Linked DNA regions of Homo sapiens: region 2 is linked to region 1. The links come from fine-mapping of genetic effects on gene expression. Tissue or cell type: nasal epithelium. Region 1 holds a variant in brackets; the other region holds the start of a gene. All regions are shown on one strand. Distances are from middle to middle.

Evidence for each region. PIP is the estimated chance that this variant, and not a neighbour inherited with it, causes the effect.
Region 2: it holds the start of USP7, and the variant in region 1 is fine-mapped to the expression of USP7 in nasal epithelium (TOPMed, PIP 0.98).

Annotation. Positions count from the first base shown.
Region 1 is chr16:8,998,903-9,006,788 of GRCh38, forward strand. No RefSeq gene overlaps it. Among named protein-coding and RNA genes, the nearest start is that of USP7, 39 kb to the left of the region's middle. The variant C/T (reference allele first, on the strand shown) is at 4,766.
Region 2 is chr16:8,961,865-8,967,528 of GRCh38, forward strand. USP7 (ubiquitin specific peptidase 7) reads right to left here and starts at 2,042. Exons shown (of 31, transcript NM_003470.3): 1 at 1,343-2,042. The coding sequence starts at 1,421. USP7-AS1 (USP7 antisense RNA 1) reads left to right here and starts at 849. Exons shown (of 2, transcript NR_184341.1): 1 at 849-1,030; 2 at 4,889-5,126. RefSeq lists enhancers at 413-949, 3,646-4,269, 4,270-4,893, 4,894-5,515 and silencers at 2,145-2,504, 4,188-4,482.

The DNA of each region.
Region 1 (7,886 bases):
GCTCACTGCAGACTCCGCCTCCCGGGTTCACGCCATTCTCCTGCCTCAGCCTCCCGAGTAGCTGGGACTACAGGCGCCCGCCACCACATCCGGCTAATTTTTTGTACTTTTAGTAGAGACAGGGTTTCACCGTGTTAGCCAGGATGGTCTCAATCTCCTGACCTCGTGATCTGCCCGCCTCGGCCTGCCAAAGTGCTGGGATTACAGGCGTGAGCTACCGCGCCCGGCCTAACCTGCATTCATTCTTTAAAATAGTCACTTTTTTTTTTCTTTTTTTGAAACAGAGTCTTGCAGCCTTGACCTCTCGGGCTCAAGTAATCCCCCAGCCTCAGCCTCCTGAATAGCTGGGACTACAGGTGTGTGCCACCATGGCTATTTTTTTTTTTTTTTTTTGAGATGGAATCTTGCTGTCACCCAGGCTGGAATGCAGTGGCATGATCTCGGCTCACTGCAACCTCCACCTCCCAGGTTCAAGCGATTCTCCTGCCTCAGCCTCCTGAGTAGCTGGGATTACAGGCACCTGCCACCATGCCAGGTTAATTTTTGTATATTTAGTAGAGACGGGGTTTTGCCATGTTGGCCATGCTGGTTTCAAACTCCTGATCTCAGGTTATCTGCCTGCCTCAGCCTCGCAACGTGCTGGGATTACAGATGTGAGCCCCTGCGCCTGGCCTTATTTATTTATTTATTTATTTATTTATTTATTTATTTATTTTGAGATGGAGTCTCACTCTGTAGCATAGGCTGAAGAGCAGTGGCTCGATCTTGGCTCATTGGAACCTTCGCCTCTCGGGTTCAAGCAATTCTCCTGCCTCAGCCTCCCCAGTAGCTGGGATTACAGGCATGGGCCACCACACCCAGCTAATTTTTGTATTTTTAGTAGAGACAGGGTTTCACCATGTTGGCCAGGATGGTCTCAAACTCCTGATCTCAGGTGATGTGCCTGCCTCGGCCTCTCAAAGTGCTGAGATTACAGGTGTGAGCCACCATGCCTGGCTTTTTTTTTTTTTTGAGACAGGGGTCTGGGACTGTTTTCCCAAGCTATAGTGCAGTGGCACAATCATGGCTCACTGTAGCCTTGAACTCCTGAGCTCGAGCAATGCTTCCAACTCAGCCTCCCTACTAGCTGGTAGCTGGGACTAAAAGTGTGCACCACCACGCCTGACTAATTTTTGTATTGTTTTGTAGAGATGGGCTGGGGGGGTGGTGGGGAGTTGGCCATGGCTGGTCTCAAACTTTCGGACTCAAGTGATCCACCTGCTTTAGCCTCCCAAAGTGCTGGGATTACAGGCTTGAGCCTCTGTGTCCAGACAATTCTTTAAAAATTTTTTTCAGAGATGAGGTCTCACTATGTTGCCCAAGCTGGTCTTGAATTCTTGGGTTCGAACTATCTCACCACTTTGGCCTGTCAAAGTGTTGGGATTACAGGTGTGAGACACTGTGCCTGGCCTTTTTATTTGTTGATTTATTTTGAGACACAGTTTCACTCTGTCACCCAGGCTGGAGTGCAGTGGAGTGATCTCGGCTCACTGCAACCTCCACCACCCAGGTTCAAGCGATTCTTGTGCCTCAGCCTCCTGAGTAGCTGAGATTACAGGCGTGCGCCACCATGCCCAGCTAATTTTTGTATTTTTAGTAGAGACGGGGTTTTACCATGTGGCCAGGCTTGTCTCAAACTCCTGATCTCAGGTGATTCGCCCATCTCAGCCTCCCAAAGTGCTGGGATTACAGGCCTGAACCACTGTGCCCAGCCTCTTGCATATCATTAATTTAGGAGCGGAAAACCTTTCCAAGTGTACAAAAAGGATGCTAACCACATGCTCACTGCTTGTCTAAGTGCTTAATATGTACTCCTTGCAACAACCCCCAAGGTAAGTTATATTATTATCATTCCTCCTTATAGATAGACAGGTGTGCCTCCTGAGGCACAGAGAGATTAAGGAATTTGTCTAAGGTCACACAGCAGTATGAAACAGAGCAGAGATTTCAACCTAGAAAGTCCGACTAATCACACACAATGGTGAACTCCAGCATTTAACTTACTAGGGGAAGAAAGGAAGGAGCTTTTTTGTTTTGGAGATGGAGTCTCCCTGTGTCACCCAGGCTGGACTGCATTGGCAAGATCTCAGTTCACTGCAACCTCTGCCTCTTGGTTCAAGTGATTCTCCTGCCTCAGCCTCTCGAGTGGCTGGGACTACAGGTGTGAGCCACCAAGCCTGGCTAATTTTTTTTGTTTTTTTTTTTGCATTTTGAGTAGAGATGGGGTTTTGACATGTTGGCCAGTCTGGTGTAAAACTCCTGACCTCAGGTGATCTACCCACCTTGGCCTCCCAAAGCAGTGGGATTACAGGGATGAGCCACCGAGCCTGGCCGGAAGGAGCTTCCAAAATGTTAGTTAAAGCACCCCAATCCCTTGCTGGGCCTAGTTAATACTTTTTAAGTTGAGATGATAATATTTTGCACATACTGGGTTAAATAAAATATGTCGCTAAAATTATTTCCACCTGTTTCTTCTTGCTTTTTTTTTTGAAACAGAGTCTTGCTCTGTCACCCAGGCTGGAGTGCAGTGGTAGGATCATGGCTCACTGCAGCCTCGACCTCCCAGGCTCAAATGATCCTTCCACCTCAGCTTCCTAAGTACCTGGGACCACAGGCAAGTGTCACCATACCTGGCTAATTTTATTTAACAAAAATTTTTGGTAGAGATGAGGTCTTTCTACATTGTGTTGAACTCCTGGGCTCAAGTGATCCACCCGATTCAGCCTCCCAAGTGCTGGGATTATAGGTGTGAGCCACTGCACCCGCCCCTTTACCAATCTTTTTTTTTTTTTTTGAGACAGAGTCTCACTCTATTGCCCAGGCTGGAGTGCAGTGGCACGATCTCGGCTCACTGCAACCTCTGCCTCCTGGGTTGAAGTGATTCTCCTGCCTTAGCCTCCTGAGTAGCTGGGATTACAGGCACGCACCACCAGGCCCAGCTAATTTTTTTGTATTTTTAGTAGAGATGGGGTTTCACCATGCTGGCCAGGCTGGCCTCGACCTCCTGATCTTGTGATCTGCCCGCCTCGGCCTCCCAAAGTGCTAGGATTACAGGTGCGAGCCACTGTGCCCAGCCTGCCTTTACCAATCTTAGACACCTCTTGGAATATTCCCTGGAATTATGACAACCCGCTGAGACTCCAAGCACCACTGCCAAATCCGTCTCCCAAAGCACCACTAAGCTCCTTTCCAAAAACCTGCCAGCACTGACTTCTGTGTGAGTGAGTCCAAATTTTCTAGACTGTCATGCAAGACCTTCTGATTAGCATCAGCTCTCTTAGCACATACAGGATGTGGCTGTGGCATCCCAGGGACCTGGATTCAAGTCATGCCTCCCCTTCTTGGTAGGTGTGTGATCCTAGGCAAGTCACTTCACTGTTCTGGCTTCCATTACCTCATCTGTGGAATGGGGATGATAATATGCACCTTGTAGGGACAATGATGTCTTCAGCACAGAGCTGAGTGTGCAATGAGCACTTACCACTGTGAATCCATATTATTATTACATGGTGTTTTCTTTTCTTTTTTTTTTTTGAGAAAGAGTCTCACTGTGTCACCCAGTCTGGAGTGCAATGGCTTGAATATAGCTCGCAGCAGCCTTGACCTGCCAGGCTTAAGTGATTCTCCTGCCTCAGCCTCCCAAGGAGCTGGGACCACATGGGTGTGCCACCACTCCTGGCTAATCTTTTTTTTTTTTTTTTTGAGACGGAGTCTTGCTCTGCCTCCCAGGCTGGAGTGCAGTGTCGCGATCTCAGGTCACTGCAAGCTCCGCCTCCTGGGTTCACGCCATTCCCATGCCTCAGCCTCCCGAGTAGCTGGGACTACAGGCACCCACCACAACGCCCCGCTAATTTTTTTGTATTTTTAATAGAGACAGGGTTTCACCGTGGTCTCTGTCTCTTGACCTCGTGATCCGCCCGCCTCAGCCTCCCAAAGTGCTGGGATTACAGGCGTGAGCCACCGCACCCGGCCGACTCCCAGCTAATCTTTAAATTTTTTGTAGAGACAGGGTCTTGCCATGTTACCCAGGCTGGTGTTGAACTCCTGGACTCAAGTGATCCTCCCACCGCAGCCTCCCAAACTGCTGGGATTACAGGTATGAGCCACCCACCCAGCTTACTTTGTGCTAATTTTTTGTTGTTGTTGTTGAGACGGAGTCTCACTCTATCACCCAGGGTGGAATGCAGTGGCTCGATCTCAGCTCACCACAACCTCTGCCTGCCAGGTTTAAGCGATTCTCTCACCTCAGCCTCCTGAGTAGCTGGGATTAGTGGCACCGGCCACCACGCCTGGCTAATTTTTGTATTTGTAGTAGAGACAAGGTTTCACCATGTTGGCCAGGCTGGTCTCGAAGTCCTGATCTCAGGTGATCCTCCCAAAGTGCTAGGATTACAGGCGTGAGCCAGGTCGCCCAGACTTTTTTTTTTTTTTTTTTTTTTTTAAGAGATAGGGTCTTGCTCTGTGTCCCAGGCTGGAGTGCAGTGTTGCAACCATAGCAATCATAGCTCACTGCAGCCTGTAACTCCTGGGCTCAAGCAACGTTCTTGTCTCAGCCTCTGGAGTAGCTGGAACTACAGGTGTGAGCTACCGCACCCAGCCTTATAATTACTTTGGTTCTATTTACCCTCCCAGCTGGCTAGGCTGGTCTGGTGACCATAGTGTAAGGAGGAGTGCCTCATTCTTGCCAATAATAGCGACAAGGATGAGGATAGTCAAACAACTCACA[C/T]CTACTGAGGTCTATTCTGTGCCAGGTACTGTTGGGGCCACACTATAACTTCCATGGACCCTTCCTTCATGAAAAAATATTGTCATTCATGACTGTATTGGTACAAAGAGAAATATAAGGGAGACTGGATTATATTCATTTTTCAGTTCTTATTTATTTATTTTTGAGATAGTCTTAGTCTATCACCCAGGCTGGAGAGCAGTGGCATCATCTCAGCTCACTGCAACCTCTGCCTCCTCGGCTCAAGCAATCCTTTTACCTTAGCCTCCCAAGCAGCTGAGACCACAGGCACAAGCCACTACACCTGGCTGATTTTTTTTTTTTTTTTTGTAGAGCTGGGGTTTCACCATGTTGCCCAGGCTGGTTTCGAGCTCCTTAGCTAAAGTGATCCACCCAGCTTGGCCTCTGAAAGTGCTGGGAATACAGGCGTGAGCCACTGCACCCAGCCTATTTTTTTTTTTACTTCTAATATTAAAAGAAATTTAAACAATTCCCTGGGCCCCTAAAAATATTGAGGGACCTAGGCACTGTGTCTAATGTAGATCTTGGTCCTGTGCATAGTGCTAAGCACATTGTGATTTGTCATGACAGCTCCAGGGAGCAGGGACAGGGTGGAATACCCTTTATTTCTAGGATTTATTCCTGAAGACTTGGCATTATTTTATTGTGTTATGTTATGTTATTTGCTTATGAGACAGGGCCTCACTCTGTTGTCCAGGCCGGAGTACAGTGGTGTAATCACAGCTCTTTGTAGCCTCGACCTCTCAGGCTTGTGATCCTCCCCCTCCCACTTCCAGAGTCACTGGAATTACAGGAGTGAGCACGCCCAGCTTGGCATTGTTTTATTTTAATTAATTATTTTTCATTTTTATTTTTATTTTTTTGAGACAGGATCTCACTCATTGCCCACGCCAGAGTGCAGTGGCACTATCTCAGCTCACTGCAACCTCCGCCCCTTGGACTCAAGCGATCCTCCCACCTCAGCCTACCAAGTAGCTGGGACTACAGGCATGTGCCACCACGCCCGGCTAATTTTTGTATTTTTAGTAGAGACGGGGTTTTGTTATGTTGGCTAGGCTAGTCTTGAACTCCTGATCTCAGGTCATCCACCTGCCTCGGCCTCCCAAAGTGCTGAGATAACAGGCATGAAACACTGCACCTGGTCTATTTATTTATTTTGAGACAGAATTTCCTACTCTCACCTGGGCGGGAGTGCAGTGGTGCCATCTCTGGTCACTGCAACCTCTACCTCCTGTGGCTCAGCCTCCCAAGTAGCTGGAATTACAGGCATGTGCCACCATGCCCAACTAATTTTTGTATTTTTAGTAGAGACGGAGTTTTGCCATGTTGGCTAGGCTGGTCTTTAACTCCTGGGCTCAAGCAATCCACCTGCCTCAGCCTCCCAAAGTGCTGGGATTACAGGCATGAGCCACTGCACCCGGCCATGATTTTAAATTCGTATAATTCATTAGCAAGCCTGACTCAAGTTGGCAAATATGTCGATTTCCCAAAGAAACTCACATAGCAGGAGCCATCAAATAAATAGTCAGTATTATAGGGCTGACAATCCTCAGACCTAGTAACTTTTTTTTTTTTTTGAGTCAGAGTCTCACTCTGTTGCTCAGTCTGGAGTACAGTGGCGTGATCTTGGCTCACTGCAGCCTCCGTCTCCTGGCTTCAAGCGATTCTCCTGCCTCAGCCTCCCAAGTAGCTGGGATTACAGGCGCAAGCTACCATACCAGCTAATTTTTGTATTTTTAGTAGAGACAGTGTTTCACCATGTTGCCCAGGCTAGTCTCGAACTCCTGGCTTTAAGTGATCTGTCTGCCTTGGCCTCCCAAAGTTCTGGGATTACAGGCATGAGCCACCGCGTCCAGCCAAGGCCTATTTTCATCTGCAACAAACAGATTTTGTGAGCAAAAAGCGGGGAAAGTGGCTGCTGGGGGAACCACACCGAACTTCTCAAAGGCAGGGACCATGTTTTAGGTGTCTCCTTTTGCCTACATGGGGCTTATAACTCAAGCAATGTTTGTGAATGAAAAAAGCCAAAGAGGCCGGGCACAGTGGCTCAAGCCTGTAATCCCAGCACTTTGGGAGGCCGAGGTGTGTGGATCATCTGAGGTTGGGAGTTTGAGACCTGCCTGGCCAACATGGCGAAACCCCAGCTCTACTGAAATATAAAAATTAGCCGGGCGTGGTTGCTCATGCCCGTAGTCTCAGCTACTTGGGAGGCTGAGGCAGGAGAATGGTTTAAACCCAGGAGGCAGAGGTTGGATTGCACCACTGCACTCCAGCCTGGGCGACAGAGTGAGACTGTCTCAAAAAAAAAAAAAAAGCAAAAGAGAATTTATTTAAGAGTTTGATTCAGCTGCAGTGGCTCACGTTTGTAATCCCAGCACTTTCGGAGGCTGAGGCAGGAGGATCTCTTGAGCCCAGAATTTCGAGACCAACCTAGAAAACATACGGTGACCTTTTCTCTACAAAACAAAAAATTAGCCGGGTGTGGTGGCATGTGCATATGGTCCCAGCAACTTGGAAGAATGAGGTGGGAGGATCACTTGAGCCTGGGAGATCGAGGCTGCAGTGAGCTGTGATTGCACCAATGCCCTCCAGCCTGGGCAACAGAGTGAAACCCAGTCTCAAAAAAACAAAAACAAGAAGAGTTTAAGGAACATTTTTTCCTGAAACATGGTTCATGATAAATTTAATCTCTAAAAATGTTTTAGGAGGAAATGTTGTAAGTTCAATAAAATGCCTTTCTCTGTACCTGTGGCAGGTAGGCAGAATAATGACCCAAAAGGTGTTCACGTCCTAATCCCTGGGACCTGTGAATATGTTATGTTACACCGCAATGAGAAATTAAGTTTGTAGATAGAATTAAGGTTGCTGATCAGTTGATCTGAGATGGGGAGAATACGATGGCTTATCCAGGTGGGCCCAATGTAATCAGAAGGGTACTTACAAGAGGAGGCAGCAGGCTTAAAGAAGAAAAAAGGATCAGGTGCAGTCCCTCACGCCTGTAATCCCAACACTTTGGGAGGCTGAGGCGGGTGGATCACGAGGTCAGGGGTTTGAGACCAGCCTGGCCAATATGGTGAAATCCCGTCTCTACTAAAAGTAC
Region 2 (5,664 bases), 38 kb before region 1:
AAGTGAAACAGATAACCCAGTCCTTGGCGTGGACTCCGCTCTTCTGTCCCCCATTACTGCCATTGATAAATACCACTGGGGAGTGCCTACTGCAGAATCCCAGCCACTTTGTCATTTGCAACCTGGCCAGCCATTTTTTCAGTGACTATCCAATTACTGGAAGTAAGTTATTCTATTCAGAGGTGAACACCAGTCACGCTTAAGTGTTCCCACCAACCGGTGTGCAGCGCCCCACACTTGGAGCCACCGCACAGGACAAATACTGCTTTTCCTGAGCTCCCCTGGAGCTTCATTCATTGAGGCAACCCAAGATCCCTTGCTAAAAGCAAAACTAAAGCATTCCACGCCGTTTTCATTCAGGTGGCCTCCATTTGACTCCCGACAGCCTGAACTCGTCACGTAGGTAAGAAAACTTTTTAAAGACCATTTGGACTTTGCTTTGTTTCAGTGAAATGGGTCGTGAGAAAAAGTGCCTTCCAACGACCAACTCCCTAAATCCAACACCCTTCTCTTTACAGCGTCTTCACATCCAACCTTTACAACCAAGACTCTATACCTCAAACTACAGTGCCTTGGAAAATTACTGCCACATCGGCAGAAAACCGAGTTACCTTTCGAGTCAGGTTTGATTCTGATGCAGGCAGCCATGTGCGGCAGGGCTTTCGCACGGTTGCAAGCGCACACCTGGCCGGATGCTGGCTGCACCACACACTGCCAAGTACAAACTCCCCGAAAAACAGGTGGATTCGGAAACCAACAGCGCCCGGGTCAGAACTCTGGGCCAGTCCAAAACCTGACAACATCTGCGTTCCTTGCAGGTATTTTCGAACGTAAGCCCGACGCTAGGCAGTGCTGTTAGAAAGTGATTTGGAAGAGCGCTTCCGAGCCACGGCGCGCCCTCCGGGGGAGCGCACCGGAGCAGGTGCGGGCGAGCCCCGCGCCCGGGGAGGTCAGGAATTCCCCAGCCACACCAGATCCAACCGGACGCCCCAGAACGGGGACGGTCCCCGGAGTCCGCCTCCCAACCTGGGTGAGAAAACACCTCCGTCCCTCCGCTGCCTGAGCGCTCGAATTTACAACTCAGGGCGCTTTGTGCCGCGGAGGCCCGGCGGACGCGAGGTCGGGACAATGCACGGGGCCGGGGTCCCGGCGGCCGCCCCTCGCCCGCGGACCCGGCATGACTTTGCAGCCTCGCAGGCCGGGGCCGGGAGGCCAGGCCGAGGCCCGGCGGCCGCCCGGGGCCTGGTTAAAGATGGCGAGCCCCTCGCGTGGCTCCCGCGGCTCCCCCGGCCACAATGAAAGGCGCCCCCCGGCCCCGCCGCGGCCGGCCCTCGGGCCTCACCTTCCATCTCCATGTCCTCGGGCTCGCTCAACTGCTGCTCGCCCGCTTTCTGCTGCTGCTGCTGCTGCTGGTGGTTCATGTCGGCCGCGGCCTGGGCCTCGCCTGCGGCCGGGGGCCGGGGCTGCGAGCCCGGCGGGCGGGCGGCGGCGAGCCGGGGCGGCGGCGGCGGCGGCGGCGGCGGGGCGGCCTCCTCCTCCTCCTCCCGCGCGTCGTCGGCGACGGCGGCCCCGGGGCGGCCCGCGGCGGGCGGCGGCGGCGGCAGGGAGACGCGCACGTACTTGCTCGCGATTCGCCCAATCTCGGCGCCGAGGCGGGCGGGCGGCCGGCGGGCCGGGCCGGGCGGCCTCGTCGCTCGCTGCGGCCGCCGCCGCCGCCGCCGCGGGGCCCGCCTCCCGCCGCCGGGGCCGGGGCCGGGGCTGCGGGGCCGCGGGCCGGCCGGGGGCGGAGGGCGGCCGGTCGGGGGCCGCGGAGTCAGCCCCGCCTCGGGCCGGGCGCGGCGGACGGGAGGCCTGGCCGGCCGCGGCGGGCCTGCGGGCCCTGGGGCCGGCGGGAGCGGCGGAGCGGGCGGGCGACGGGCCGGCCGCGTTCCGAGAGCCGCGGCCTCCGCCTCCTCGGCGTCGTCGTCGGGGCTCCGGCAGCGGACGCGGCGCCCGGCAGCTCGGCTCGGCTCGCTCTCAAAATGGCGGCGGCGTGAAATGTCACATCCGCATGGGGGGCCGCGGAGCGAGCGAGCGAGCGAGGAGAGCAAGCGGGCGGGCGCCGAGCCGGAGGGCGGAGCGGGAGCGCAGGGCGGAGCACGGGAGGCGGAGCAGGGAGCGACCCGCCTGCCGCCGCCGCCGAGGCCCGCCTGCCCCGCAGCGCCGCGCCCCGGCACCGCCTGCGCCGCAGCCCCGCGGCGGACCCTCGGCGCTCCCTGCCCCCGGGCCCTGGGGGCCGAGGCGGGCCGCCCGGTGACTTAGCCCTGCGGAGGTGAACCGGAATCCTTCCCATCCTGGGGAGCCGGACACCCCGAAAGACCCAGGAGCGGCAATGAGGAGGGGCCCAGAAGCCACCCGGCAGCCGGGGTTCAGGTCCCAGCCTAGCGCGCCGGGGCGAGCGCTGGAGGTTGCCCGGGGACTGCTCGGGATAGGGCCCGGAAGGGAGCTTGGGGTCAGCGCCTAGAAGTTCCTGTTATTGTCGTTACTTACCCTTGCCCGCTGACGTGCACTTTTTCACCCAGTATCTACCGTGGAAGAATTTATTTTCTCACTGTCAGCCTAATCTGGCAAAGTTTGGCTCCTCAAGAGCAACCCCAGGCGGGGCGCAGCTGCTCACACCTGTGATCCCAGCACTTTGGGAGGCCGAGGTGGGAGAATCACTTGAGGCCAAGAGTAAGAGACCACCCTCTCTACAAAGGTTTTGGGTTTTGTTTTTATATTTTTGAAATGTATTTTTAATTAGCCGGGTGTTGTGCCTCCTGCCTGTAGTGACAGCTACTTGGGAGGCTGAGGCTGGAGGTTCGCTTGGGAGGTTGACTGAGGCTGCAGTGATCAAAGATGGCGCCACTGCACTCCAGCCTGGGCAACAGAATGAGACCCTGTCTCAACTAATAGTGATAATAAAATAATAATATAAAAATAAAACAAGCCCACTACCCTTCACATTTGGTATTAATTTACTTCCTTCCTATCAACCCAGTCTGGGATCATTCACCCGGGGCCTCCCTATTCCAGGAGACATTTGGTGAATATATCTCCTGTCCTGTCTCATTCAGTCATTGACAGACTGATGATTAGGGTCTCAACTTTTCCAGTTAATCAAGGCAGTGTGGGTCAATAAAAATGGAGCAAACCGATATACATTTCTACACATCTCAGGGGAGAATAGAATTTCACCCTAACAAGGCCAGAAGATTGTGGTACCTGTCTTCTCTCCATCTCCCTATACCCGCTTTCCCTGCATTTTTCTCCCATTTATGTACTGTTCATCTCCCTTCCCCCCGAAAGAATGTTTTGCTCACTGTTGTATCACAAATGCCTGGGATACACAGCAAGTGCTCAATAAAAATTGGTTGGGCCAGGTCGGCGCGGTGGCTCACACCTGTAATCCCAGCACTTTGGGAGGCCAAGGCGGGCGGATCACTTGAGGTCGGGAGTTTGAGACCAGCCTGACCAACATGGAGAAACCCCGTCTCTACTTAAAGTACAAAATTAGCCGGGCGTGGTGGCGCATGCCTGTAATCCCAGCTACTCAGGAGGCCGAGGCAGGAGAATCACTTGAACCCGGGAGGTGGAGGGTGCGGTGCGGTGAGCTGACATCGCGCCATTGCACTCTAGCCTAGGCAACGAGCGAAACTCTATCTCAAAAAAAAAAAAAAAATTGGTTGGGCCAGGCACGGTGGCTCACGCCTGTAATCTCAGCACGTTGGGAGGCCGAGGTGGGCGGATCACCTGAGGTCAGGAATTCGAGACTAGCCTGGCCAACATGGTGAAACCTCATGTCTACTAAAAATACATACAAAAAACTTAGCCGGGCATGGTGGCATACGCTGGTAATCCTAGCTACTCAGGAGGCTGAGGCAGGAGAATTGCTTGAAGCCAGGAGGTGGAGGCTGCAGTCAGCTAATCACACCCCTGCACTCCAGCCTGGGCAATAGAGGGAGATTCCATCTAAAATAAATAAATACATAAATAAATATTGGTTGAATGGGCCAGGCACAGTGGCTTACACCCCTTATGCCAGCACTTTGGGAGATTGAGGCGGGAGGATCAATCACTTGAGCCCAGGAGTTGGAGACCAGCCTGGGCAACATAGGGAAACCCGATCTCAATCAGCCAATCAATTAATCAATCATTAGTCAACTGGTTGAATGAACATATGATTCAAGCGTGACTGGATCCCCCTCACCAGCATTTCGTACGCTTGAAGGTTTTTCACCAGTATATTTCCTGCCAGACCACAGAGGTGAGCAGGGGAGAGCCCAGTCACTTCAAAGGAATCCCTTGGGTCACCCCCAGAATCTGAAGAAGAGGTATTGTTATTCACACAGATTCTCACAAATGCTAATCAACAGCGCTCAGATGCAAAAGAGTCCTTCTCTCTAGTATTCTGGAAGCTTGGAGGAGGGAAGAAAGTGCCTTTCTGGCAGAGGAAGAGGTGGCAGAAAGTTATGTATATGGCTGTCAGTTCACATTGGCCAACCTTATCCTCATCACTGAGTTCAAAACCAATCTGGCCGGGCACGGTGATTCACGCCTGTAATCCCAGCACTTTGGGAGGCTGAGGCGGGCGGATCATGAGGTCAGGAGTTCGAGACTAGCATGACCAACATGGTGAAACCACGTCTCTACTAGAAATACAAAAATTAGCCGGGCATGGTAGCGCGCCTGTAATCCCAGCTACTCAGGAGGCTGAAGCATGAGAATCGCTTGAACCTGGGAGGTGGAGGTTGCAGTGAACCGAGATTGCACCACTGCACTCCAGCCTGGGCTATAGAACGAGACTCTGTGTCAAAAAAAAACAAAAAACAAAAAACAAAAAACACACAATATCTCTCTCTCTTTCTAGAAGCACCTTGAGGAAGAAATTGTCTTGTCTACAGCTCTATCCTCAGTACAGCACCAAGCTTACAGTGGATGCTCAGTGAAGATTTGCCGATTTGCCGAATGAATGCTTTCACCCCTGCAACTGTTTACTGCCTGCTAGGAGCTCAGAGCCTCTGGGATACAGGCTGGGAATGACAGTGCCTGCTCGCTTGGAAGGCCTCTCTTCTGGAGTCAATAAAACAGCACTTCTTTGCTTCTTCCTGGCTGGTCCACATCTTTCACTGAGGAGTGGATAGTGGAGGGAGAGTTCATTTCTAGGGCACCACAGCTATGAGAAAAGCAAGACCAGTGCCCTTGGAGGCCCACTAAAAAGGCCCCCACTGGATTATTCCAGCAGGCTCGGCTGGCCTGTTTTCTTCCTCCCCTGGTAGAATTGTGCCTGCATTGGCTATAAAGTCCATTTGCACACAGAAGGGGTGTGTGTGGAAGGACTCTGCAGAAGTGAATCCGCTGAGTAATGCCTGCTTCCTCAGAGGGTGAATGCCAAGATGCCTCCAAAGGACATGAAGGGCTCTGAAGGGGAAGATGACTGAGGGCACCATTTTTGATCACTGCCAATTAAAAAAAAAAAAATTCATGACCCCTACCGTGGTTCAGAAACCGGGGACTAAGGAGATGAAAAACCGGGGAGACAGGAACCGCTGGAGAAACTGACTTGTCATTAGCTAGAGCCAGTAAAGGGCAGGGAGGGCCCACCCTATCATTACTTGGATCAAAACATATTTTGCTGCTCCCAGG